7 linked regions of the Homo sapiens genome follow. The protein of the gene in region 1 interacts with the protein of each later gene in a pairwise test. Each region holds a gene or a part of one and is shown in the gene's direction. Other genes may lie near its edges. The genes, in order: EHHADH, TPP2, ERGIC1, SLC14A2, EMP1, cystathionine beta-synthase and SFT2D1.

What was found.
Region 2: the proteins of EHHADH (region 1) and TPP2 interact in binary tests that used the Homo sapiens proteins (3 or more experiments, as listed by UniProt).
Region 3: the proteins of EHHADH (region 1) and ERGIC1 interact in binary tests that used the Homo sapiens proteins (3 or more experiments, as listed by UniProt).
Region 4: the proteins of EHHADH (region 1) and SLC14A2 interact in binary tests that used the Homo sapiens proteins (3 or more experiments, as listed by UniProt).
Region 5: the proteins of EHHADH (region 1) and EMP1 interact in binary tests that used the Homo sapiens proteins (3 or more experiments, as listed by UniProt).
Region 6: the proteins of EHHADH (region 1) and cystathionine beta-synthase interact in binary tests that used the Homo sapiens proteins (3 or more experiments, as listed by UniProt).
Region 7: the proteins of EHHADH (region 1) and SFT2D1 interact in binary tests that used the Homo sapiens proteins (3 or more experiments, as listed by UniProt).

What each region holds. Positions count from the first base shown.
Region 1 is NC_000003.12:185,189,998-185,193,124, reverse strand, and holds the end of EHHADH (peroxisomal bifunctional enzyme), read left to right. Parts: coding exon 1-899; 3' UTR 900-2,501; downstream 2,502-3,127. UniProt on the Homo sapiens protein: Peroxisomal trifunctional enzyme possessing 2-enoyl-CoA hydratase, 3-hydroxyacyl-CoA dehydrogenase, and delta 3, delta 2-enoyl-CoA isomerase activities. Catalyzes two of the four reactions of the long chain fatty acids peroxisomal beta-oxidation pathway.
Region 2 is NC_000013.11:102,638,483-102,642,646, forward strand, and holds part of TPP2 (tripeptidyl-peptidase 2), read left to right. Parts: intron 1-1,787; coding exon 1,788-1,894; intron 1,895-4,164. UniProt on the Homo sapiens protein: Cytosolic tripeptidyl-peptidase that releases N-terminal tripeptides from polypeptides and is a component of the proteolytic cascade acting downstream of the 26S proteasome in the ubiquitin-proteasome pathway.
Region 3 is NC_000005.10:172,920,913-172,925,076, forward strand, and holds part of ERGIC1 (endoplasmic reticulum-Golgi intermediate compartment protein 1), read left to right. Parts: exon of another isoform or gene 1-614; coding exon of another isoform or gene 615-713; exon of another isoform or gene 714-1,175; coding exon of another isoform or gene 1,176-1,191; exon of another isoform or gene 1,192-1,390; intron 1,391-3,092; coding exon 3,093-3,197; intron 3,198-4,164. UniProt on the Homo sapiens protein: Possible role in transport between endoplasmic reticulum and Golgi.
Region 4 is NC_000018.10:45,621,659-45,625,822, forward strand, and holds part of SLC14A2 (urea transporter 2), read left to right. Parts: intron 1-2,972; 5' UTR 2,973-3,006; coding exon 3,007-3,156; intron 3,157-4,024; coding exon 4,025-4,164.
Region 5 is NC_000012.12:13,209,562-13,213,725, forward strand, and holds part of EMP1 (epithelial membrane protein 1), read left to right. Parts: intron 1-1,907; 5' UTR 1,908-1,949; coding exon 1,950-2,027; intron 2,028-3,917; coding exon 3,918-4,014; intron 4,015-4,119; coding exon 4,120-4,164.
Region 6 is NC_000021.9:6,453,686-6,457,849, reverse strand, and holds part of cystathionine beta-synthase, read left to right. Parts: intron 1-476; coding exon 477-556; intron 557-650; coding exon 651-785; intron 786-899; coding exon 900-969; intron 970-2,180; coding exon 2,181-2,272; intron 2,273-3,093; coding exon 3,094-3,219; intron 3,220-3,776; coding exon 3,777-3,861; intron 3,862-4,164. UniProt on the Homo sapiens protein: Hydro-lyase catalyzing the first step of the transsulfuration pathway, where the hydroxyl group of L-serine is displaced by L-homocysteine in a beta-replacement reaction to form L-cystathionine, the precursor of L-cysteine.
Region 7 is NC_000006.12:166,318,817-166,322,639, reverse strand, and holds the end of SFT2D1 (vesicle transport protein SFT2A), read left to right. Parts: intron 1-2,383; coding exon 2,384-2,423; 3' UTR 2,424-2,912; downstream 2,913-3,823. UniProt on the Homo sapiens protein: May be involved in fusion of retrograde transport vesicles derived from an endocytic compartment with the Golgi complex.

The sequences.
Region 1 (3,127 bases):
CTCACTTGGTCATTGGCACCCACTTCTTTTCGCCAGCTCATGTCATGAAGTTGTTAGAGGTTATTCCCAGCCAATACTCTTCCCCCACTACCATTGCCACTGTTATGAACTTATCAAAAAAGATTAAAAAGATTGGAGTCGTTGTAGGCAACTGTTTTGGATTTGTGGGGAATCGAATGTTGAATCCTTACTACAATCAGGCATATTTCTTGTTAGAAGAAGGCAGCAAACCAGAGGAGGTAGATCAGGTGCTGGAAGAGTTTGGTTTTAAAATGGGACCTTTTAGAGTGTCTGATCTTGCTGGGTTGGATGTGGGCTGGAAATCTAGAAAGGGGCAAGGTCTTACTGGACCTACATTGCTTCCAGGAACTCCTGCCCGAAAAAGGGGTAATAGGAGGTACTGCCCAATTCCTGATGTGCTCTGTGAATTAGGACGATTTGGCCAGAAGACAGGTAAGGGTTGGTATCAATATGACAAGCCATTGGGTAGGATTCACAAACCTGATCCCTGGCTTTCCAAATTCCTATCACGGTATAGAAAAACCCATCACATTGAACCACGTACCATTAGCCAGGATGAGATCCTTGAACGCTGCTTATATTCACTTATCAATGAAGCATTCCGTATCTTGGGAGAAGGGATAGCTGCTAGCCCAGAGCACATTGATGTTGTCTATTTACATGGATATGGATGGCCAAGGCACAAGGGCGGGCCCATGTTCTATGCTTCCACAGTTGGGTTGCCCACAGTTCTAGAGAAATTGCAGAAATATTACAGGCAGAACCCTGATATTCCCCAACTGGAGCCAAGTGACTATCTAAAAAAACTGGCTTCTCAGGGAAACCCTCCCCTGAAAGAATGGCAAAGCTTGGCAGGCTCCCCTAGCAGTAAATTGTGATTCAGTCTTCCAGATTATGCCTCACATGCTAGCATCAGGTAATGCTGACTGAATTTCAGTGAAATTAAATCAAAAATCCAAAGTAAGATTGTTCTGAAATACAAAGCAAAATAAATAATCATTAGAATCTTCTGTGTAACGACTCTAATGGTCAAATCTTTAGGAATGTGCTTCCTATGCCTCTGAATCTGTCCTTATCAGATAAATTCAATGCATGAACTTGTGTGAATATAATACCATAATAGCTAATGAAAGAGGCTCAGGCATAAGTTGAGATTCTCAAATGCTTTTATCATTGGATAAATGTGTCATCAATTAATAAATGATAAATGCAGCTAAGTCATACATTCATTTTGACTCCTTTCAATGTCACACACATAGTATTGATCAGAAATCTTATGAATCATACATACACTCAACAAACATTAAAGTTGTAGGAAAAAGACAGTTGGAAATTGGTAAGGGAACTGAGTACTTCAAACCAGCACAGGGAACTTAGGTTAGTGTGGCAAGCCTTTCCTCTTCTGGTCTTTCCTCTTCTGTTTATGGAGAAATAATAGAAAGTAGTAAGTCGTTAACTTAGTGTAAGAAGGGTCTTAGAGAACATCTAACCTTCTAGGATTTCCCAATTCTGTGATAGAGTAATGACACCAGTTTTCCTGTCATGACAAGCCTCTGTGATGTTACATATGGAAATGGTTGAATCTTGAAAAATCTAAAATTGTTGCAAAACATATTTTGTATGATTTTGTTGTAAGAGTTCTTCTCTTTTTACTTTTTGCCTTGTGTAGTTAAAAATTAAGGGGCTGGTCAATACAAAAACTTGTACACAAATATTTATAGCAGAATTATTCATAATGGCCAAAAGCTGAATACAACCCAAATGTCTATGAACTAATGAATAGATAAACCAAATCTGGTATATCCATACAATGGACTATATTATTCAGCCATAAAAAGAAATAAAGGGCCAGGCACAGTGGCTCACACCTGTAATCCCAGCACTTTGGGAGGCTGAGGCAGGAGGATTGTTTGAGGCCAGAAATTTGAGACCAGCCTGGGCAACATAGCAAAACCCTGTCTCTACAAAAAATACTTTCCGTACATTAGTGGTTGCCTAAGGCTAGAATTGGGGGTGATGAATGGGGAGTACAGGATTCATCTAATGGGTACAGGATTTCTTTATGGTTCATGAAAATGGTCTAAACTTATTGTGGTAATGGTCACATAACAATATATTAAAAACCATTGAGTTGTATATTTTAAGTGGGTGAATTATATGGTATGTGAATTATATCTCAATAAAGTTGTTAGTAAATAAATGGGGCTGAAGATGTTATCCTTCATTGTGGTGTAAATGAACTTTCACAATATTTTCACCTGTGAACCCAAATAAAATGATTAAAGTTCTGATGGAAAAATCTTGAATGGAGTATAAGTTTTCCGTTGTTAAAAAGCAAACAAAAAACCAACAAAAAATCCAAGTGTGCCTTGAATTGTACAGAGCACAATTATTATGTTTGAAATGTGTACTACTTAATTTTATATAATTTGGTTTGTGAAATTAAAGACATCAATAAAAATGATTCCTGAAAGTAGTAATTTTGTCTCCAAAGTGACTTGCTTTCAAATCAGTGTTAAAAAAAACCCACTAACTTTTTCTTCAAACCTGGAATTAATTTTGAGTTCTTACAACTTATTTTCACCCTACAGTGGCCTCTAGATTAAGGGGGTTTTTTTTGTTTTTTTGTTTTTGTTTTTGTTTTTTTCTGACTGGAGTCTTGCTCTGTCGCCCAGGCTGGAGTGCAGTGGCGCTATCTCAGCACGCTGAAAGCTCTGCCTCCCAGGTTCACACCATTCTCCTGCCTCAGCCTCCTGAGTAGCTGGGACTACAGGTGCCCGCCACCACGCCTGCCTAATTTTTTGTATGTTTCAGTAGAGACAGGGTTTCACCATGTTAGCCAGGATGATCTCAATCTCCTGACGTCATGATCCACCTGCCTCGGCCTCCCAAAGTGCTGGGATTACAGGCGTGAGCCACCACGCTTGGCCTAGATTGAGATTTTGAAACTAGAGGGTCTATGAATAGGTTTTATGAGTCAATAACCCCTGAAATGTTATGATAAAGTTTGTGTACATGTATCTGAGTACATTTCTTGGAAAAGGTACCATATCTCACATCATATTCTAAAAAGTATCATGACCCGACCAGGCGCAGTGACTCACGC
Region 2 (4,164 bases), on another chromosome or scaffold:
GACTCTTGTGTGCTCTGAGAGTAACTGATGGCACCTGGCATCTGCCCTACCTCTGCATCAAAACTATTTCCACCACAGTCACTCTGAGCTCTGCATTGCCCAGTTCAGAGGATAACTCAGGCTTCGTCTGACCCGATCCCACTGTAGTATTTGACAATATTACTTCACTCCCCTCCATTCCTGCCCTTTTTGTCTCTGTCGTTTTTGGGATTTACTCTCTTCTCTTAATGCTTCCACTTTTCTAGTTATCTACTGTAGAAGCAGAAGTTAAGAAACTCTTAACTTCCCATCTTATTCCTCTGGAACCAAGGAAAAATCAGCAGATTATATTACTTCCTGCTTAAAGTATATCAGTGGCACCTCCAAAGGTCAAGTTCAAGCTCCTTAAAATAGCAAACAATGCTCCCTCACAATTATAGCCCTAGCCAGTGTTTCCTGTCATTCCGTACACCAAATTACACATTTTGGCCAACTCACTGATTTTGGCACTTGAGGATTCTCAGGATTTGTGCATGTGCACAGCTGATAACTTGGTTTCAATTTCCTGTCTCTTCAGTTAATGACCAGGTGCATTCCTGGTCATCCCTGGGTGAAGGGAGTCCCTTCTTTCTGCTTCGTGGCACATTTTACGTGCCCCTGGACAGACTTTAGCCAATATATTGTAATTTTTTATTTAACTTACACTCTTTCACTGTGAGCCCACCGAAGGCACAGAGACTACTGTTATACAGGATGTATAAAATAAATTATCTAGTGGATGAAGGTGAGATTGGGATTGTGAGAGTACTGGAAACCAAGTGGAAATTCTAAACTAACAGTTCTGTTACTCTGGTAAATATTAAGTATGCAATAGATCTCAGCCCATGAGAAACACAGGATGAAATTGAGGAGAATAAATTTAAAAAGTGGTATACATGTGGAAAAATTGTGCAACAGTTAAATTCTCAGCCGTATATTCCCTCGAAGTCCAGTAGTAATTTAGACCAGGTAATGTGTAAGACCTTCAGGAGTCAGCTGCCACGCCATCTCCTTCAGGAAGCTTCCCAGGCTCCGTAACTCTTCTTGTCTATCTGGAGCATCTTATGTTAAATGTCTCTGATGATGATTCTCTCCATGCTAGATTGTCTAGGTTAAAGAATCATATTTTCTTCTTTGTTACGTTTCTAGCTCCTAATAACAGGGCCTCATGTAGTAGGCACTCATTTAACCGTTTGTCCTACTGACAAGAATTTGTCTCTAGCATAAAATTTGTTTCCGTGGTGGGTAGTTATGCATTTGAACTTTATTTCATTGATTTCTTACAAAAGTGCTTTGAAAGTAGTTTGCCTTTCTTTACTGTTTTACATCATGGGAGTGTTTTGAAGCTACAGGAGGAGCTTAATTTAACACAAGTCTCATAGCTATAATACCAGTGACATAAAACTTTATCATTGATTTTAATATCTAGGACTCACTGTAGTTTGGAATCTGGTAATTGGAAAATTCTGTGAATGTTGTAGAATGCCTTTAACAAAAAAGAGAATGCTTTTTTAATAGTGTGTGTGAATGTATCTTACAAATCATAAAATAGGCAAAAAGTAGAATCATCTATACTCTGCTATTCAGAGGTTATCTCTGCTAACCTACTGCAAAAATTGAACAATATCGTACCTACTGTTTTGTAACCAGCTTCTAAGTCCCTGTGTTTATTTCCAATGAATTGTTATTTTGCGTTTATCCAATGAAATCTAGAGTATCTGTGGTCTTATAATAAATATATACATTTAATTACTTTTATTAATTTTCAGAGTAAATGAATCATCACATTATGATCTAGCCTTTACAGATGTACACTTTAAACCTGGTCAAATTCGAAGGCATTTTATTGAGGTTCCTGAGGGTGCAACATGGGCTGGTAGGTAAAATTAAAATCTGTGTGACCGCTTATCTCTGTTTACGTTCTAATGACTATAGCTGTATGAGGTTCGTTTATCTGTAGCATGTATTTCCCTGGTACTAATATATGTATTTGGGTACCTTAGACTTTCTGTAAAGTTCAAAACGTTTTTAAGATCTAGTACAATTTTGCATTGGCCCATACAGGAAATTAAGCCATCTTAAGATGTTTTTAATATTTAAGGTTTGAGCTTAGTTTAGAATAATGCCTTACCTGGTAATAATTTTTTTTTTTTTTTTTTTTTTTTTTTTGAGACAGAGTCTCACTCTGTCGCCAGGCTGGAGTGCAGTGGCATGATCTCGGCTCACTGCAACCTCCACCTCCCCAGTTCAAACGATTCTCCTTCCTCAGCCTCCCGAGTAGCTTGGACTAGCAGGCGTGTGCTACCACGCCAGGCTATTTTTTGTATTTTTAGTAGACACGAGGTTTCACCATGTTGGCTAGGATGGTCTCGATCTCTTGACCTCGTGATACACTCGCCTCGTCCTCCCAAAGTGCTGGGATTACAGGCATGAGCAACTGTGCCCGGCCTAATTTTTAAAATACTACAAATCAGTTTAAACAATGCAGCTGTTGCTTAAACCTCAAACTGTTAAACTCTCAGAATTTTAGAAATAGAGCTTTAATCTTTGAAGCTCTGTTTATAGAAGATTTTCACTTCAGTGTCTCTGAAATTTTGAGAGTAAATGATTGCCTAACACAAAGCTCTTGAATTAACATGTTATAGTCCTGTGAGAGTGCTCATGTCATTCTTTTTTACAAGAGCTGTGGGTGTACCATATTTTCCTTCACAAGTTGTGTGTCCTAAATTTACAATTTAGCAGTCAGTATAGAAGGGTATGTCAGTTGTCAGAGCTCACTCCCATTGATAGAAGGAAGCAAATACGGGCAGTCAAGAAAGTGTCACCCAATTTAAATTAGTAGCCAGCATTGTTGATACTTCTTGGATTTGGCCCCTCTGCTAAGCACTTTACAGAGATTATCTTGTCTAGTCCCGTCAGAACCCTATAAGGTAGATAGGTGTCATTAGTAAAAATGGCTTGTATTTTACTTAGGAGTGTGTTTTTTGTACTTGTATGAAAGTACAGATATATTTACATCTGAGACTTTATTGAAAATGAAATATTGAAATCACACATGTATGACTTGGTTTGGGAATAACTGGTTGTATTTGGTTCCCCATACCATTTTCTGGTCATCTATCTGTATGCTGTCCATCTGTTTGTCACCTGGTATCACAGGAAATACCAGACTTTTCTTGTTTTTTGTAATTAGGTAAAGGCAAAATAATAGCAAAAGCTGAGAGCTAAAGCAGTGAATTGAACAGCACCCAATATAGCCTGTTAATTTGCACACTGGTTTATAATGGAGCTATTGCAGCAGTGAGAGGCTTCTGAGGATAATCGGGTTGTACTACACTCATTCATTAAGCATATTTTTCTGTACCATCTGTGCCAGGCCCTTTTCAGTGGGCTAAGGTGGTGAGCTACTTAGACAAGGACCCTGCTTCCAGAGGCCTTGAGAGCATCTAGTCCAAGATATTGCAGTTAAGAGAACTGGATTAGAGGGAGGCAGCACAGAGTAGCGGCAAGGCCACGGGCTTTGGAAATTGAGAAGTCTGGGTTTGGATCCACACTCTGCCATACGCTAATGGTTACCTGGGGGCAGGTTTCTAAATTTTCTGGACTTCTGTTTCAACTGTAAATATAGTCGTTAGTCTGTTGTAAGGATTAGGGATTTTATAGTACTTGGTACATAGCTTGTCTTCGTTGGGATTACGCTCACACTTGACAGTACTTCTAGAGGGTGGAGTCAGAGTTGCTGTGTTCAGCATTCCTGGGGTCCCATTCTCATAGGGCCCCTGGGACTTGTAGAGCTCCAGGCTCTGGTAAAATGTGCACTGGTAAATTAAAGAATACAAATCTATGGTTAATTAATACTGAATTGGGTACTTGTTTAGTGATAAATGGCACTGATTTATGATTGGTTTAGGTTGGTATTGAAAATAATTTGTTTTTTTAAATAAAAATTATCAAATGATCTAGAATGCAAGTAGTTAAGAGAATTTAACAGTCTTAGTTTTATTTCAAATAATTAGAAATATTGTCATAACACTAGATTTTGTATTCTTAGCAACTGACTAGGTTCTGAGAGCTCTCTGCACACCTGGTTTTATGAGCCACGGCATTGCGCCTTGCTTCAGTTCCCTTGAATTAGCTTGGGTGTTC
Region 3 (4,164 bases), on another chromosome or scaffold:
TTTTATCATGAAAATGTACCCAGGCATTATTTTTATCGGTGAAAATGAGGCATAAATGTTAAAACCCACAGTGGGCTTTTCCTCACGCCCTGCCTGTGAGTGTTCCCTCTTCCGGGAGGGCCCTTCTTGGTTGGCTCCGATGACAAACATGTTCACCCTACAAACCCGATCTGAGGCCAGCTGCGGGCTGCTTTGTATGCATCACCTCAATGAATCCTCCCAGTAATCTTCTGGCTTTACGCCCATTTCGCTGATGGAGAAACTGAGGCATGGAGTGGTTACTGACCTCGCCTAAGGCTCCCCAGCTAGGAAGTGGGGCTGGGCTTGGGGCCAAGTGTAGAACTCAGAGCAACCGCTCTACTATGGGTTATTGGGTCCCTGAAGCAGGCGATGCTGTCCCTCGAGGGAGATCTTGCCACGCCTTTGTTTCTGCTCCACTCCTGACCCAGCAAGTGTCCCTTCTCCACTGTAGCCTGCAGCTCGCTCCACTGCGAGTTTGCTGAGGCCGAGGCTACAGGCTGTCAGCTTGATGCCTCCCCTGTCAGCCACAAGCTCGGGCCCTGCTGAAGTAGGAATATTCCTGCAGGAAGTCCCCAACTTTGTGTTTGAAACAGACATGCTTACAAAATCAGACTTTGATGGGCTGCTGCACGATAAGCTATATTCCCTCCTCGGACACAGCTCGCACAGTCTTCTTCATTGGGCTGGAATAAGGTAACCCCCGAGTTTTTCAGTGTGGCATCTGGGGACCTTTGATAAACAGCCCCAACTCCTCCCTTGTGCCTCTTTGTTTCCTGCTGCTGCCAGCACCGCCACCTCCGTCTCATTTGGAGTTCAATAATACCAGACTCTTAGTTCCTTAGACAGCCCACATGCTGGGAAGTTTCTGTCCTCTGCACCTGTTCATGCTGTTCCCTCTGCCCAGATGCCTTTCGCTCTCTTCCTGAGTAATGCAGACTCATCTTCAGAGCCTTAACACAGGATGTCCTTCCCCCTGGGAAGCCCTCCCTGAATACAGCCTGCACCCTCAATTGAGCCGGGGGCCTTCCCTGTAACCCCCATGGTCTGCAAATTCCTCTGGGCCAGGGTGGATCCCACAGAGTCTCATTGTCTGTTCCAAGTCTGTGTCACAGGGGCTTGGCCAAGGCCAGATTCTTGTCTGCTCATCTCCCCAGTTCCGGCATCTCCTGAAGGACTGGCGCCATGTGGCCATCAGCCCAGGCTGCGGAGGTAGATGGCATCCAGGCATCAGAGGAGGGAGCAGTGCGTCCAACAGACGTGAGCTGAGACTGCAGCTCTCGACATGTGACCTTAGCAAGTTTCTTCACTGCTCTGAGCCTCCATTTTCTTTTCTGTAAAATGGGAATTATCAGATGACAAAGTCAAAGGATTCAGTGTTGTTTGTTTAGTCATTCATTCATTCAAAAAGTGTCTATTGAGCACCTGCTATGTGTCGGAGTCTGGGGAGCACAGCAGGGCGTGGACATGCTAATGGGAGGAGGCAGACGAGAACAGGATGGGTATGAGATGGCAGGTGATCCCAGAGGCTGTAGCAGGTAAGGGGATGGGGAATGGGGGCCAGGGTGCTCTTTTGCACAGGTGGACGTGGAGGGCCTCTCTGTTGGGCCCTGAGGGTCCGAGGGAGGGCCATGTGGAAGAGGGTCCCAGGAAGGGGTGCAGGCACAAAGGCCTAAAATGGGGCCACACTGGATGCTGTTCCCGGCACGGCAGGAGACCAGACAGGAAGCAGCAGAGGACACAGCAGCAGGAGGCCAAGCGGTGGGGACACGATGCTTGGCCAGCGGCCAGATGTGGCCTGTGGGCCACCACGAGGACATGGACCTGGACTCTGAGAGAATAGAAGCCGTGGAGGGTTCTGGGCAGAGGAGTGATGAGATCTGATGTAGGGTTTAAAAAGATCTTAACAGTCATTATTGGGAAAAGGCCCAGGCTGTGGGGAACATGGAAGCTGGGAGCCCAGGGAGGAGCCTGCCATTGTTGTCCATGAAGAGACGACCTTGGACCAGGGCAGCAGAGAAGAGGTCAGGCGCCAGGTGTGTTTGGAAGGTGGAGCTAACAGGGTTTCAGCTGATGGATGGGACGTCGGGAGTGAGAAAGGGGGGTTCCAGGATCATACCAAGGGTTCTAGTCTGAGCATCTAGGAGGAGGAGGAGGAGGAGGGTTCCAGGATCATACCAAGGGTTCTAGTCTGAGCATCTGGGAGGAGGAGGAGGAGGAGGGTTCCAGGATCATACCAAGGGTTCTAGTCTGAGCATCTGGGAGGAGGAGGAGGAGGAGGGTTCCAGGATCATACCAAGGGTTCTAGTCTGAGCATCTGGGAGGAGGGAGGAGGGTTCCAGGATCATACCAAGGGTTCTAGTCTGAGCATCTGGGAGGAGGAGGAGGGTTCCAGGATCATACTAAGGGTTCTAGTCTAAGCATCTGGGAGGAGGAGGGGGAGGAGGGGGAGGAGGAGGGACTTCGTGCTGAAACAAGGAGAAGCTGCAGTGGCTCCTGCCACATGGTTGTCACCAGCATCCTTTGTTCTGTAAATACTCATCCAGCACCTCTTGCTGGCTTGGCTCTGCGAGGGCTTGAGACCCAGGGAAGAGATGAGGCTACCACAGTCTGTCCATCAGGGATCCCCCGTCTAGGGCACTGGGGCAAACTTGGGTAGGAAATGATAGGGGTTTGGAGTCTGAGGAATCCCCATTAGTCTGCAAGCTCAAAGGTCATCCCCCAGCTGACTGTGGGGTCAGCCGCCCAGAATCCACAGAGCTGGAGGGGGAGCAGCTGCCATGAGTCCTGGCTTTGTGCCCGTCGCCCAGATGGGCACTTCACATGCACCCTCTCACCAGATAGTCCTGGCAGCCCCCTCGGAAGCTATGGTAGTGCCCCCATTCTGCAGATGAGGAGCCTGAGGCCCAGAGAGATGGGGTGACTCCTTTGCACAGTTGAAAATGATACAAGCAGGATCCAAACCCAGATCTGCCTGATTCCAGTGTCCTCCCTGGATCACACAGGGTGAGGCCCCAATGTTCCGCCCCCTGGAGAAGTCAACCAAACTCCTGAAACTCACATTTCTCCCCCAGGTCCCCGGCAACTTCCACGTGTCCACACACAGTGCCACAGCCCAGCCACAGAACCCAGACATGACGCATGTCATCCACAAGCTCTCCTTTGGGGACACGCTACAGGTGAGCAGGGGACACTCGAGATGGCATGGCCGGGGGTGGGCCTTCAGGGGCTCTGTCACCCAGTGCCCTCTGCCCTCTCTGGGCACTAGGAAGAGTTACCGTTAAGGTGACATCTAAGCCAAGCCTGGAAGGGTAAGAAGGGTTTCACCAGGAACAGAACAGGGAAATGGGTCCTAGGCAGGGGGCGTCTCAAACATCACCCCTCTCCTAGAGCGCCCAGCTGGTGGTTTTCATGTGAAAGACCCTCAAGGTTACTTTCAGAAAAATGGATCAGTAAGCGTATGTGACACGGCATGTTCTGTGCCGAGATGGTCCAGGGCACAAGGGCTCGCTTGGCAGCTGAGAGGGCCCAGAGCACTTGCCTGAAATGGGAGCCGGCAGGTGGGGTGTGTGGGGTGCGAGAGACCCGTGGTAGACTGAGGAAGGTGGAGACTGAAGGTCTGGTTGGTGACTCAGAGCACCCATCTGCAATGAGGAAGATGGACCCAGGAGGCAAGACTATAGGCAGGGAGGTGAGGGAAGGGCCCAGACCGAGGCAGGTGGAGGGGAGAGGAGCAGCGGTCTCGCATTGCCACGTGCAGGGGCAAAACAGAAGGACACAGAAACTACAGTCCCAAGTTTAGTCATTAGTGGGGTGGAAATCTGATTTTTTTAAAAAAATGTACAGAACTTAGCTTAGGGCCCATCCATCCATTCATTTTCTGTCCATCCATCTAGTCAACAAATATTTACAAAGTACCTACCGTGTCCAGGCCTTGCATACCTTGGTGAGGACAAACATGGTCCCTGCCCACCTGGAGCTTCCAGTCTAGGGGGGAAGACAGATGTTGATCAAATAATGGTACAGGCCAGGTGCGGTGGCTCACTCCTGTAATCCCAGCACTTTGGGAGGCTGAAGCGGGCGAACTGCTTGAGGTCAGAAGTTTGAGACCAGCCTTGCCAACATGGTGAAACTCTGTCTCTACTA
Region 4 (4,164 bases), on another chromosome or scaffold:
GGGTCAAAGCAATAGACAGAACAGAGGAGGCCACCGTCCTCATGAAACCTAAGTTCTGGTGGGAAGATAGAAACCATACAAATAAATATACAAATCTGCTATAAGGAAAAATACCTGGTCCCATGAGAGTATGTGACAGGAGAACATGGTGGGTGGATCTGCGAGGGTTTATTTAGCAAGTGATCATTGAGACAAAGCCTGGCAGAAGTGTAGGGGTTGACCAGGAAGAGTGAGGGAAAGGTCTTCATGCCAATGAACCAGCACTTGCAGAGGCCCTGAGGTGGAAAGTGTTCAACACCTTACAAGTACTAAAAGGAGGCCAGCATGGGGCCTGGAGTCATGGAGCCAGAAAGCAAGGGACTCACTAAAGCACAGTGGCAGCTCAGAGCCTTGCACACCCTGTCAAAGAGGTAGTTTTCCATCTGAAAGCATTGATGGGCTTTAAGCAGGGATCCAACATGAGATTAATATGGCAACTCTTCCCTGCGGGGCATGGCTTTGAGGAGAAACCTGGGAAAAAGTAGGGATATCCAAATGAAAGTCATTGAAGATGTGGTAAGAGGTGATGGTGGCTAACTGGTGACCATGAACGTGAAGGCATATTTTTTAGAGACAGAATTGTTAAATTTAGAGAGTAAGAAGAAGGGAGCATTAAGTGTGACTCCTGAGTTTTCTGAAGGAATGGCTTGGAAGGGGAAGATGACTTTTCCTAGGTGGTCACCTGTGAGGGAGGATAGGATTTGGGAAGGCAACATGATGAGTTGTTTTGGCAAATTAAGGCACTTGGAACGTCTATATGTGAGTGTAAAGTAGACAACTAAATCTGTTAATCCACTGCTCAAAACTGGGCTGGAAATGTGAGTTTTGAGGGTCATCGGCAGGGAGATGGAATACGAAGCCATGCTGAGGGCTGACGTCACCTGGGTAGGAGCACCAGGGCTGAGAAGAGGGCCCGGAACAGGGGTCTGCAAAATGCTCCTGTTACACGAAGAAGAGCCGCCAAAAGAGAGTGTGAAGGAGCAACCAGAGAGGGGAGCAGATATAACGGCCAAAGAGTGTGTCAAAGAGGGTGATCAACTCTCAGAACACCACTGAGCAGCCTGGTGGGATGGGGACTGAAAGTGGACTTGCCATGGAGGCCTTAGAGACCACAGCAAAGGCAGCCATAGCAGAAAGCAGACTGAGCTGGACTAAAGAGAGAAAAGGGAAGCACCTAGTGTTCACCTGAGGACAGCAATCCAACTTACAGTGAAAGCAATCTACTCGGTTATTACCCTTGTTCTCTAGCCATGTTCAGTTGTTTGGTGAAAGCATGGAAAAGTTAGGCATTTGGGTTTATCCCGGCTGGAATTTCACCATACAAGCATGAGGGAGGGAGACAGGTGCAAGAGAGTTGGAGGAAGTAACATAAGGGGCCATGAAGTTAAGTTGGTCAAGGAGGGAAGGGAAGACAGGTGGTTGTGGGAGCTGAAGGGCTGTCAGAGGGGTCACCTGAGCAGGTGAGCCAAATGTGCAAGAGGAAGTGGCCAGAGGAGAGATCTGACTTTTGAGATTTCCAGTGTGTGTGATATTAAGCCCATGCTGGGACTGTGGAAATCAGTTGCTGAAAAGGGGAGATGAAAAGGTTCACTGGAGATGAGAAGGACAAGGATCTGAGAAGCCAGAGAACAGGATGATGAGTTATCTGCCTGGACATCGAAGCTGCTTAAAGTTACTGGAGGGGGATGAAGATGATTAGTAGGAGCACTTCAAGTCTTCTCTGAATGACAGAGTGACCAGAGAGTCAGTAACGCAGCAGTGGGCAGTTGGAGAGGATGGTATGGCCATTTGAGATAAGCCTCAAAGAAGAAGGGTTTCTGCCCAAGCAAGGTGAGTGGTGCTCAGAAGAAATTGTGGAGAGTAAGAATTCCTCTCATTAGGAGGAGGAGAGGTAATAGCCTAGCGAAATGGAACTAATGCAAAATTAGATAGGGGACTTTATCCCCTTTTGAAGGGAATCCTGCAATCCTTGAGCGGTGTCTGGAATGATGAGTATACGGAATGGTAGTACCCATGTTAGGGATCTGTGATCCCTGTCCTAAGAGAGACGGTCCTACACTGAAGGGATGCAGCATGGAGCACGGAGCAATGGGGAAAGCTCTAGGTCATACTGAGAGGAGACCGCATGCAGGTCCAAAACCACCTCTCAAATAAATAAATAAAAAGATATAACTGAGCTGGAGGAGGCTAGAGAAGAAATGCACAAATGGCTGTATGGGAAGGAGAGAGTACAGCACTACCAAGGGGAAGCCAGACAAAACCAGGAAACTGAGGACCTCAGGCAAAGGATGTTCCAAAAGCAAGTCATGGCATAAGCCCTGACCCTGGTGGTACGGGGACAGGAGCCCCATGTGGAAGGGAAGCTCCTTCAGCTGGGATGCACACAGCTCATGGAAGAATAGACCAGTGCTTCCTACTGTTCCTAGGGAAGGGAAAGAGGGAAGGAGCTGGAAATGGTAGAGGGAAGAGAAGGAAGACTGGAGATCAGTTGTAAGCAATGTAGCCTCCATAGAAATTCAGGAAGAGTTTCTCTTAGACACCCCCCACCTCCAATCAGTACTGGATCTGTGTGTACGTATCAAGGGGAACATACGTGTACCACTAACTACCACAATAGGACGGCACAGCAGGCAATATGAAAGGCAGAGAAAAAACACTCAGTGATCAAGAGAAAAAGAGAGACTTCCATTCTGACTCAGTGGTCAGGGATATCTTCATCGGCCAAATGGACATTCTTCTGGACGCGGAAGAATGGGAGGATTTTGAAAGGTAATGAGGTAGAGAAATGTCCTCAACTCTACAGCACAAGCTGTAGATCCCACGTGTGTCACTGTCCAACCCCCAGGACAGACCTGAGGTCTGAGTCCAGCCTCAGCCAAGTCCCTCTGGGCCCCGTCCTGACTCACTAGCTCTTTCCCTTTCCTTCCGTCTAGTCCATCGATAGAAGAGTGGCTGTGACCCGAAGGAATGTCTGACCCCCACAGCAGTCCTCTCCTGCCAGAGCCACTTTCCAGCAGATACAAACTCTACGAGGCAGAGTTTACCAGCCCGAGCTGGCCCTCGACATCCCCGGATACTCACCCAGCTCTGCCCCTCCTGGAAATGCCTGAAGAAAAGGTGAGAAGTGTCCCTCCTAGGATGTTTCCTGGGAGGGAGGGGATGGGAAAAGTGGGGGCAAAAGATGCCGCTTTCCCACCTTCCCAGTGAACTTAGCACACTGAGGAAGTGCCACTGTCAGTACATGGTGACACCCATGGTGGGTCCTACCTGGCCTTAGATAATGTGGCTCTTCATGAGACATGATTTTAAGGACAAGTACAGAATACAGACACTCACTCACCAGTCTTTCAATCAGTCTCTAAAATCTTTCCCCTTAAACCTGCTCCCTTGAACTACCCTACTGTCTCCAAAGGGAAGGCCTTTGTTGAAATGCAGGCCATTAGCATCCTCGGTGGTAGCACAGAGGTAGACTGGCTGGCCACTGCTGCAGTAGAGAGGGACTCAAGACTGCTGGGATGGCCTTCCAGAGCTGTCCTGACTTGCGATGAGGAGGTCCCATATCTTTACTCATCACTACTTTGAAATTACAGAAGGTATTGGATCTGCTGTGCATACATGTGTATCTTAATTTTTAGTAAGATTATAACTGCATTTCAGTATAATTGGCTTGGTTTGCCGTCCTATTTATCTGATCTTTGCATTTACAAACATTATTCTGAAAAGAAGCTCATGGGCTTCATTAAACTGCCAAAAGAGATCCATGGCACAAAGGTGAAGAAATCCTGCTGTGAAGAAGGTGCATGGTCCTGGGAAGAACAGGCTTGTACGGGGCACTCTATGCAGCCGCAGACAATGGGCATGTGTTCCACCCTTTGTCTCATGATCCTTTATTTTTATCAAAAAACCTGCCACCCTCCTCTATCCCCAAATGTCCCTGCTCTCAGAAAGCTGTATCATTTGATGTCTGGTTGGTTTCTCCTAAAAGGATCTCCGGTCTTCCAATGAAGACAGTCACATTGTGAAGATCGAAAAGCTCAATGAAAGGAGTAAAAGGAAAGACGACGGGGTGGCCCATCGGGACTCAGCAGGCCAAAGGTGCATCTGCCTCTCCAAAGCAGTGGGCTA
Region 5 (4,164 bases), on another chromosome or scaffold:
AGCTAAAGCAACCCCATTATTAGTAGCTGCCATGTGTCAGACACTAGGTGTTTTACATAAACAATCTGAATTCATCCTCACATTTCCCTTTGCAATTGACATTGCGACTTCCACTTTCTAAATGAGGAAACAGATGAGCGGTCAAATAACTGGATATGATTCTAATTCATCCTCTGTCTGATTCAAAAATCTCTTTTTACTGTGCATTTAAGTCAAGCAGAAAATTGGGGAGGTGTGCTAGAACCTGAGAAAAGCAAAAATGAATTTGAATGTGTGGGGGGATTACTAATAGCAGACATGAAAGCTCCAACCTCTCCCCTGAAGAGGCAGGATAAACGTCATAATTTTTGCATTCACAGTTAAGTTGGACACATTCCTAAAAAACAGCCTGGGTTGGAAGGAAGTGGCCAGATTGGGAAGGGGCTGTTGGAGACGGTCAGGGAGAATGGTGGAAGCCATTGTCTGCCTCTCATTCCTTGCTTGCAGAGAGCAAGGCACCCTGATGTATATTAGATCACTCTAGATTTTTGGTTGCCTGATAAAGACAGTGAGAGGAGATAAAAGGCATGTGAAGTGTTGGAATTATAGTATCAGTGCTCTCTAATAAATACCTGATGTGGCATGAAAGTGCCTCAAGCACATTCAAAGCATCAATTAAATTAGGTGGAGTGAGAGAGGGCAGTGGAACAATTGCAGGATGCGCCTGGCCATCTCCTCCCTTGGTTGGGGCATCCACACATCCATTCTGTCTAGGGTGTGAATAACCTCAAGCCCTTTCCTTTTGATGTCCCTCTGAGCCTGCACTGCTTTGTGACAGTCTTAGGCATGACAAAGCTCTCCTTCTGTAGCTGACATAAATCAGAATAGCCTCCCCCATGTGTATCCTTCACACTTCCTTTATTTCCTAGGCTTTATGATCAATGGGCTCCCTTCTCTGCTGTGATTATGGCTGAAAGCTTTTGTTTATCCATGCACATTCTTAATCGATATTAGTTCCCAATCCTCCCACCCTGTGATTTATGCATTTGCCTGTCTTCTGTATTGAGTCCTGAAGGATTGGAATTTGTGTAAATGTCATGTACAAGGAGAAGGCACATTTGGTGCTATCTCAAGTTGCATTACTTTTAAAGCCCCCAGAACCATCACATTGAGCTGTGGAAAATATGACTCTCTGCCCAGACCAATGGCAGGCTTCCTGCCATGAGGCACACAGAGCCCAAAGGCTCAGGTGTAGTAATACTAGTCTGAAATGCTCAGTCACAGGGTGACCAGACCATTAAACTGTAATTAGGTTGTTATAATTATTGAAAACCAAACAGCATTATAATAATAGAATTGTGCCTCTCACATTTTATATCTCGCCCAGGATCATATTAGTAGCCTATTCAGTATATGGGCATTGAGTAATAGCTGCTATTCTTCAGAAGGCATTTACTTCTATTAAAAGTGCTGGGTGAGCAATTTGATGAAAGCATGGACATTTTCCTAGTGGAAAATGGACATTTATATGACATTGTTCAGAGACCTGGAAATTATAAAGGCCTACTTCTTTGAAAATCAAAGTCCTATTTTTAACCTCTAAAACACAAACAAAATAAAATACGAACAGTTATCATAAAATGTTCTTGTTCCTTTTTTGAAATAGAATGTATTAGAGAAATGAATATGTAAATACCCAAGAAGAAACCAAATTCTGTTTCCATGTAGGTATGTATAACTGGATGAATAGGCACTTAGGCAAATCAGAACTAGGTTACAGGGGTGTTTTCAGGAATTTATGATTAGATTGTGATGGTTTTTAGTGCAGCTCTTCCTCATGTTAGCAGATAGCCCACACGTGTGGGAAAGCTGAGTCGTCTTATTGAATCTGACAGTAACCGTTTTTGTCCCTTTCTTTTTCTTTTCAGAACTCTCTTTGCTCACAAGTTACCAAAAAAAAAAGAGCCAACATGTTGGTATTGCTGGCTGGTATCTTTGTGGTCCACATCGCTACTGTTATTATGCTATTTGTTAGCACCATTGCCAATGTGAGTAATGTTCTTTTGTTCATTCATTCATTGAGAAATCATTCGAATATTTACATCAAGTGCACAAAAGAAGTTTAAGCCACAGCCCTTGCCCTTCATGAACTTACAGCTCAGTTGTGGGAAAACAAAATAAACACACGCTTGCCCTTCAAACAATTAAATAACAGGAGGATAAAAGTGAATGTCCACAGGAGTAATCCTGCCAGAGCTGTAGGTGGTTAAGGGCTGGAGGATCTAGTGCAGCTTCTTCGGTCTCTAGAAGAGCCTTCCCAGCAGCAGGGGTGAGTGGAGCTTGAGGTGAACCTGGAGGAGTGGTAGATGGCTGAGGTTTCTCTTAGTGAAAGAGGGAAGGTGGAAGGATCATAGGGATGCATTCAGGTGGGAGTGCTAGCAAAGGAGCATATGTAGGAAGGACAAGCTTTGGTCAGAGGATAAGGAGGACACACACCTATGTGGCTGGAGCCGAACTTCCCCTCCTTCTGAGAAGCTTGATTAGAAGGATAGATGGGAAGAAGAGGATGCCAGACTGACAAATTCAAATTTTGAGCAAAGAGTAGCATGTGAAAGTGGAGTTTTGCAAGATTAACCCAGTGCCACTGAATTAACTAACTCAGACAAAACGAGAAAAAAAAAATGGAGGTAGTGTCTTTTCTCTCTGAACCCTGGGCTACTCTGACCTCTAGTGGTGGCTTACAGCGCCCAATTTGCTTTTACTTGTGCTTTTCTCAGAAAAAAGCCAGCTCCTTGGACCTAAAAACCAAGGCCACCAATCACTAGGCAGGCAAACCATGGTTTCAGAATCTGTTTAGGTCCCTATCACAGTTAAAGTATAAGTGAGTTTTAAAGTTCAGATAGAAGAGCTTTGCAAACATTAGTGGGTGTGATCATAAGCAAGGCTAATTAAGAATAACTGTGATAAGACAACCCCCGCCCACGTGACCTCCTTGTTTTGTAATTTAGCCATTCTATATGTCAACTCCTATATCTATCCAGATAAATCTGATAAGCTTCTTCAAAGTGTATTAATGAGCGCCAAAGCGCTGCGTATCTGTGAATTACCAGCCCCTAATATAAGGCTAGGCACACAGTTGTTTATTGAATGAAGAGCAGGGATTGGCGTAGGTGATGCATGTTCCCGGCCCCACCTTTCCAGTGTGTGCATTTGTGTGTGTGTAGACAGGACACTGCACTTGTTTTCTCTTCCAGAAGGATAATTCCTTTTCTTGGGCCAGGCAGGAAGGGATGGCGGCACCATGATCAGTCTGGGGGAATCCATTCAGGTCACCCTTCAGCTTTTAGTAGCCCCTACAGGAAAGCACTTGCTGTAGTATTTTACTATCAAATTACTTTGCATGTTGTGACAGTCAAGTTTGATCCTTCTGTTTAGATGAAAGTGGCTTATTAACCACTAGATTCATTGTTATTTTCCCAGTAGGTCTTATGTTTCTTAATTGTTTCCAGTTGGACATTTCACTTTTTTCCTGGTTAACCAGGGACTTAAATGAAACAATCTTGTTAGAGTATATGAACTGCACATACCTAAGCCAGTTTCCTCATCCTGGACTTCTGTTTCTCAGAACCTTAGAATTTTAAACCACTGTGGTTGAGTTACTTCCATTTTTGTTAAGTCGTGAAGAATGTGGAGCCCAAAGAGGGCTAGGTGATTTCTTTCTGGGTTTCACATTCTTCTGTGTCTCTTCTCTTGGCAACTTTGTGAACTTCAGTTTTAATCGGACCTTATTTCCGCCCACAGATAAGCTGCATAGCCATAGTTATAGCTAAATAGAATGTCTTTATTAAAATCTGATCCCGATGCAAGCTGATTTGTTATTTTATTTTTAAATCAGAGGGCCAGCTTTCAATTAACATTTTCTTTCCTTCTGGTTTCAGGTCTGGTTGGTTTCCAATACGGTAGATGCATCAGTAGGTCTTTGGAAAAACTGTACCAACATTAGCTGCAGTGACAGCCTGTCATATGCCAGTGAAGGTATATATAAAGATATTGACCCAGTGCTGACAATAGGTGTGGTCAGGGAATGTTCAGCCCCTGGAGTGACCTCATGCCCTTGTTCTCCTCGTCCTGTGTCTACAGATGCCCTCAAGACAGTGCAGGCCTTCATGATTCTCTCTATCATCT
Region 6 (4,164 bases), on another chromosome or scaffold:
GGGGGGATGGATGAGCTGCAGCCGCATGTGCTGGCCCGCCTGGCCGCCTGCTCCCTGGCATCTTGCACCCGCTGCCGGCCTGTGTCCCAACCTAGCTTCCTTTGACCAGCATTCGGGGCCAGTGCCGATGCTCTCGGGGCGATGGCACCTGGCAGTGCCTGGCACACAAGACGAGCACCCGGAGTCTGCTCTTCCTGTGCCTGTGTACCCGGCTGGGCCTGGAGGAACCAGATCTCCTGTCCTGCGCCGCTGCCTCCTCCTCCTTGACGTGTACCTTTTATTTCTGCCTCTGGCAGCCTCTCTCCCCCTGCACTTGAAGGCAGAAGCAGCCATGTTGGGCAATTTTGGAATCCCACAGAACCCTCTTCCCTGGGCCCTAAGGGAACCGGCATCGGGGTGTGCCCCTGTGTCCCAGGCAGGGGCGGGGCAGGGCTTGGGGGGTCACTGGGCCCCTCTCACCCTCTGTGTGCCCTCAGGGATCGGGCTGGCCCTGGCTGCGGCAGTGAGGGGCTATCGCTGCATCATCGTGATGCCAGAGAAGATGAGCTCCGAGAAGGTGGGTGGGCGTGGCCAGGGGCGGGGTCATAGGGCAGGGGATGAGGGTGCCTGGGCCAGGCGGAAGGTGCAGGCCACCGCTTTCCCTCCTGCAGGTGGACGTGCTGCGGGCACTGGGGGCTGAGATTGTGAGGACGCCCACCAATGCCAGGTTCGACTCCCCGGAGTCACACGTGGGGGTGGCCTGGCGGCTGAAGAACGAAATCCCCAATTCTCACATCCTAGACCAGGTGAGGCACCTGGGGCCTGGAGACAGGCATTCCCTAGGAGGGTCTCGGTCAGGGATGTGGGGGTGACTGAGGTGTCAGGGGTCAGCTCACGGGCTCTGCTCTCTTTCTATGCAGTACCGCAACGCCAGCAACCCCCTGGCTCACTATGACACCACCGCTGATGAGATCCTGCAGCAGTGTGATGGTGCGTCCCTCTGTCCATCTTGATTGCATTTATCCCTGGCTGCCTGGGAGTGTACACATCTCTTGCCCTCTCCTTGGTGAACTCCTATTCACCCTTCAGAACCCAGCTCAAATGTTCCCTCTGTGAAATGCTTTTCTAGAGCATTTCTCTAGAACAATTTCCTCCCTCCGTTGTGCCCTCTTGGCCTCCGCCTGTGGTTTACCTGTAATAGCAAACACAGGGCATGGCTGTATTTGTTTACCCAGCAATCTCTGCAGGTCTGCAGGGGCTCCTCCTGCAGATAATGCAGACAGCGAGTCTGTTCAGGGCCCAGGCTGGTGCTGGGCTCACAGCTTGGACTTCATTTGGGATCATGCCCTGACTCGGCATCAAATTCATCTGCAGAACAGAGCTGGTGACATCTGCGATGAGCTCACTCTCTGTTACAAGCATGAGGCCGGCTCCTTGGGCCCTTTTCCAGGGACTCGGTGCCAAGGCCTGTGGGGGTTGGTACTGAGGTTTTCCCAAGAGATCCCTTTAGAGATAAGTTGCCAAGAGGTTGGCGCCCTGGCTTCCTATTGGGAATCCGGTGTTGGCATGGGCTGGAGTACACCCTCAGTCCGTGCCCAGGAGCCGGGCTGTAAGGTCCAGGCATTTGGTTGTTTGGGCTTTATGTGTGAGAACTCTCTCATTTGGCAAAAACAGTCCTGTCTCAGCATGGGTGCCCAAGCTGCTCCGTCTCGCTGAGTCTTTCCCTGCTGTGACTTCTCCACCAGATGCCCGCGCTGGCGGCCAGCAGTGTGAGCGCCCAGCGAGTTTCTGCGCTGAAGCCTAAAAGACTGATTCCATTTCCTGTGTAAATTCAGTTAACTCACTCACACCACGCAAACATCCAACAGCCCACGGAGGTGGTTAATTCACAGCCTCCCTCTGCCCGCCCTCAGCGCCTGCACCCCCCGGACAGGGTCCTGTCTTTCTGCATCCAGCCAAATGGGGGTTTTAGGGGTCGAGTGTCACTGAGCAAAGACTGGGCTGGGGTGCCCCAGGCTGCCTGTTTCTGAGGCTTTCACAGACCAAGGGCAGCAACGAGGGCTGCTCCAACTGGAGAAGAAGTTTTTCTTTTGAACTTTTTGGTTACCCACCGTGGTTTGGGCTGAGTGTGTTTTCAATGATTATTACTATGAGTGATGGGCTGGCCAGGCAGGGACCCAAGAATGTTATCCGTCCACCAGGGAAGCTGGACATGCTGGTGGCTTCAGTGGGCACGGGCGGCACCATCACGGGCATTGCCAGGAAGCTGAAGGAGAAGTGTCCTGGATGCAGGGTGAGTGGTGTGGCCGGGCCGGAGAGGGGCAGTGCGGAGTGGCCCCGGCTTCTGAGCTGAAAGCTGTCATTCCTCACGGTCTGCTCAGCACGCTGTCTCCCGCGGTATTTCTGCGCTGCCTGGGAGGTGTTTGGGAAGACAAGGGTGCTTGACACATAAGGGACCAGCAGCTCGTGACCCGAAGGAGCTGGGGCTGGGTGCTCGCTCACCGGCCAGTGTCTTGGAGAACCTTCCTGCACTGAGTGGGGGGTCGGAGTTCCAACTGGGGGCCTCTGAGGATCAGCCAGGAGCTCTAAGTCCTCTGGTCCTGAGTCTGCCCCTCAACTGGGGCTTGTGGGAGTTGGGAGAGGGTTCCTGGACTCGGGGTTAAGAGCAGGTCTGAGGACGGGTGCCTAGAAAGGTCCCGCTGATGAGACAAGGGCGTTCTCTCCCTGTTGCTTGCCCTTGAAAAAGACGTCACTGCCCAGCAATGCCCTTTGTCCCCAAAGGCTCTGCTGCTCCGCCGCAGGGTGGTCTGTCTGGACTGTCCTGGGGGCCCCGCTCCGAGAAGCACCCCGGGGAGGTCAGTTCCTCCCAGGCACCTGCCTTTACTTCTGAGCGCCCTGCACTGAACATTTAGGTCATTACCGCTTTAATACTTGGAGCCTGGGTTCTTGGGTTTCTCATCCTGCCTCTGAGGCTGGGAACAGGCCACCACCCACAGGCAGATCATTAACAGGCAGTTGTTAACGGCGGTATTGGCCACTCCCATAATAGAATATCGAGGCATGTCCAGGCGGGGCTTTTGCTGGCCTTGAGCCCTGAAGCCGCGCCCTCTGCAGATCATTGGGGTGGATCCCGAAGGGTCCATCCTCGCAGAGCCGGAGGAGCTGAACCAGACGGAGCAGACAACCTACGAGGTGGAAGGGATCGGCTACGACTTCATCCCCACGGTGCTGGACAGGACGGTAGGTCGAGTCCAGAGCCCGGCCACAGTGCCGGTGCAGCCTGTAACTCACCCTCACACTGGGGAGCCTGGCTGACCCTGGGCCCCAACCAGCTTCTCCACTGAAACAGAAGGGCAAGCCCCGCACGCATGGTGAGAAGCTGGTCTCGAAGGTCGAGACAAAGTAGACTGGGGGACGATGTCCGCACACGTGGCCTGACCTCACCAAGGGATGTAGCCCAGGTGGCACAGGCAGGGAGCAGGGAAAACGTGTGAAAATTAAGGCCCCGGAAAAGTCTGTTAAGAGCCAAAAAGCTGACTTTGGCCTGAGGGAGAGCAGAGACCGAAGGGCCGGTGTGGGTCACACGGATGCTCAGTGGGGCTGGCGGGCAGTTTTGCTGTCTGCAAAACGTGTTGGAACTGGAAAGTCTGCAGACGTGCCGATCCCAGGGGGAGAGGCTGGGGTGAGACCTCTGGGGTCCTACCGCCTAGACACGGGGTCCACCATGAGGCTGTTCACCCTCTTGGTCACGTGGGAGCGGCTCCCACGCTGACGGGCTGTGGTGGGGTCCTGCTCAGGTGGTGGACAAGTGGTTCAAGAGCAACGATGAGGAGGCGTTCACCTTTGCCCGCATGCTGATCGCGCAAGAGGGGCTGCTGTGCGGTGAGTGGGTGGCGGGCACGGGGGTATGGGGAAGGCAGAGATGGCTAGGGGGCACTGGGGATGGCTGGGGGCGCACCCTCAGTCAGCCACCGACCTGCATGTGTAAGACAGCAGTTCTGAGGAGTGTCACTGCGGCGGCCACGAGCCTCAGGTGTTGTCTGCCTGCCCAGTGTGGTCACCTGCTCAGGTGAGGGCAGGAGGCCATGGGGCGGGGCTTCGAGCTGCCTTCCAGAATGTGTTTCTAGAACAAGGCTGAAGCTCTCATGGCACTTATTGTTTCTAATCAAGTCCACCAGGGCCCCT
Region 7 (3,823 bases), on another chromosome or scaffold:
GGCTCACTGTAATCTCTGCCTCCTGGGTTCAAGATTCCCCTGCCTCAGCCTCCTAAGTAGCTGGGACTACAGGCGCGTACTGCCATGCCCGGCTAATTTTTTTGTGTATTTTAGTAGAGACGGGATTTCACCATGTTGGCCAGGATGGTCTCAATCTCCTGACTTTGTGATCCTACCGCCTCAGCCTCCCAAAGTGCTGGGATTACAACCGTGAGCCACCGCGCCCGGCAGTAAACATGTTTTCAATGAGATGAATAGCAGCTTGCCATGATAATGTCTGTATGGAAACATTTTGGCGACATGGAGCAGCTCTGTGGGGAGTATCCTCCCGCCCTGCTGCCTGGCGTGCACTAGGGAATGTGGATGAGATTCTGGACCCTTCCATGGCTTTAGGAGTTCAGAAAATAGGACACAGAGACTCCAGGAAAACAAATTCTACTTAAGAAAAGGAAGTTACGGCTGGGTGCGGTGGCTCACACCTGTAATCCTAGCACTTTGGGAGGCCAAGGTGGGCAGATCACTTGAGGTCAGGAGTTCAAGACCAGCCTGGCCAACATGGCAAAACCTCGTTTCTACTAAAAAATACAAAATTAGCTGGGTGTGGTGTGGGCGCCTGTAATCCCAGCTACTTGGGAGGCTGAGGTGGGAGAATCACTTGAACCCAGGAGGCAGAGGTTGCAGTGAGCCAAGATCGTGCCACTGCACTCCAGCCTTGGTGACAGAGCCAGACTCCATCTCAATAAAAAAGGAAGTTACTGGGAAAATGAGGGCTTACACATAAATGCTTATTTTTGGTCAGCAAAAACATTTTAATTGTATGTCAAGAGGTAACCGGCATTTTAAAATATTTTTCCAGAGAAATGTATTTAGCCGTGGAGGAGAAAACAAAACTAGTTCCAATTTTAAATCTGATAGATTTAGAAAAAGATTCTGGTGAGGCACAGCTTTGCCTGTTTGTGAAATTCAAAGATATGTTATATATTTAAAAACAGCAAAATTGTCTTTAATACGAACAGTGAAGGAAATTGGTAGAAATTTTATTTTTATTCCATTTCAAATGTATGATTCTTTCTGATAGATACTTACAAGGAGAAAAAGCAAAACAAAGTTAGCTACAGGTGAGAAAGCTGCTTAACAGGAGTGTGCAAGGGTAATTTACCATGCATAGGAACTTTAGAGCAAGGAGACCTCCAATACTTCTTGGTGCGGAGGAAAGGACCTCTAGACGTGATGTCCCATACAAGAGGCTCTGAAGAGATGGCAGGACTTCAAGAACATGACCAGCCTCTCCAGACACAGGATCCCACACTCGAGAGCAATAAGCAATGTACAGATTTTGCCTATAAGAATTTTATTAGTGGATATTTTTTATGGCCTAGGTAAAAGCTTTTTTAATGAATGAAGTATCAAGTAATAACAGTTTTGGAAGAAAATATGAAAGGTCACACTTCAATCTTCTTTTAATTCTGAGGATTCAGTTATAAACATTACAGTTTTGAAACTCAGTTCATTAGTTCTTTTTTTTTTTTGAGATGGAGTCTCATTTTGTCACCCAGGCTGGAGTACAATGGCGTGATCTCTGCTCACTGCAACCTCCACCTCCCAAGTTCAAGAGTTTCTCCTGGCTCAGCCTCCTGAGTAGCTGGGATTACAGGCACGTGCTGCCGCTGCCACGCCCAGCTAATTTTTGTGTTTTTTAGTAGAGATGGGGTTTCACCATGTTGGCCAGGCTGGTCTTGAACTCCTGACCTCAAGTGATCCACCTGCCTTACAGGCGTGAGCCACCTTGCCTGGCCTAGTTCTTTTTAAAAATTAAATCTTTGGGCTGGGCTTGGTGGCTCATCCCTGTAATCCCAGCATTTTGGGAGGCTGAGACGGGTGGATGGCTTGAGCGCAGGAGTTTGAGACCAGCTTGGGCATCATAGCAAGACCCTATCTCTATTAAAAAAAAAAAAAAAAAAATTAGTGTAGTGGTGTGCCCTATAGTCCCAGCTCCTTGGGAGGCTGAGGTGGGAGGATCTGCTCACGCCACTGCACTTATCCTGGAAGACAGAGTGAGAACCTGTCTCAAAAGGAAAAAAAAAGAAAAAAGTTAGATCTTTTGTTAGGTTATTTTTGGTATTTAAACTTATTTCTTTGATTGAGATCAGTGTATATGCCAGTAAAAATTTCTTAAGATAAATACCATGTCAAAAATCAGCAAAATGTTTTCAAATCTTAGCTCTTAATCTTAAATGATACTGAACAAAGTTTTTATTAATCAAAAAGTGTGTTGGAGCATCCATTGAGTTCTGTTAAAAAAGGTGATTTAGCAGGAACATTTTGCGCAACTTTGCTTTTGAGGAATATTATATTCTGTTTTTTTCCCTCTCTTTTCCACCAGGGATGCAGTTATTAAATGCTGTTCTTCTCTCCTAAGTTGAAAATCAGAAACTTGTGGAAAAGAGCACTTGAATGTTGGTACTCTATGTTTGGTGAAGTTTGCTTTTCCCCATAAAACACTCCAGGAACAACTGACGTGACAGTTGAAGACCGTTTTGTACTAAGTCTCATTTTGTATACTGGTAAAAACTACATGCTTGATTAAACCATTAAATGCTTGTAACTTTAAATTCATTATGTGTCATTAATATACTTTTCCAAAGATAAGATTTTTAATCACTGCCAGTTGTAAATTATTTTTAGCCAATTTTTAAATCTTTTCAAAGCAGCTTTGAAATGTGAATATTTAAAGGTAGACCTGTGCTGCAAGATAATTAAACTTTTTTGCTTTTAAAAAATGTCTGCATTTTTAAGATTTTTTTTACTTTAAATGTGAAACTTATTTTAAGCTAAAAATTGCTTATTATATGTAATAAAAATAATATATAAATCTTTACAATTTTGAAATAAACCCATCCTTGGAAAAATAACATTTTCTGAATCAAATTTATAATATTTTAAGTGACTCAATTCAATAATATTTAGTTTAGGCACTATACAGTCTCTCTGTAGAAAAATGAGGAAGATACAGTCTCTCCCCTAAATAATACTGTTAAATACAAATTGTGAGAGATAATGGGACTGACAGCAGAGCCCATTCCAGGAAGTGCAGGGGGAGGAGGTGAGGCGGCATTGACTGTGAGGGTGTCAGGAGAAGTCAGGCCACTGGACAGTAGTGGCAGCAGGAAGCTACCTTCACCCCAGGCTGGAGGAGAAGCAGAGAGGGCGGAGAACTAGCCAGCGCCCTCCTCCTCCCTGCAAGTCTCCCACTGGCTGTCCTGGTCTCCTCAGTTGCCAGGGAGAGGCAGATAGGCGGGTGCCAGCATGATGTGGTGCCAGCAGGAGGGAAGGCGGCTCTATGTCTGTCCAGGGTAGGGAGAGTTAATAAAGAGCATACAACAGGGTAATGGGAGCAGCATTTTATGCACAGTCAGCTTAGAGGAGAGCTGAGGGGGATGTCCTTGAGGGGCAGCAGGCAGATGGGCAGAAGGGATCTTGTGTAGCACTGGGTGGTGGTGGCCGGACCTTGTTCAGGTCATCAGGTGTGGCTGAAATCCAGGAGTGGGCTGGGGTGGGGAGGGAGACTAAGCTGGCAGGGAGCCAGGGTCAGGCCTTAGGACCCTGGAAGTCAGGCACGCGCTTGGAAAAGAAGGTGCAGGAAAAGAGTGAGTTCTGGTGAGTGGGCGGACACTGTGCTTGGTGCTCAAGGAAGATGCAACAGACGTCCTTGTCTTCAAAGACTTTACGATTATGGGGGAGACAGACATGTTCCCAGTTGTTAGGTGTGGGGACTGGGGCTTCAGAGACATCCACAGGACTCTGCGGGCGTGTGGAGGACAGC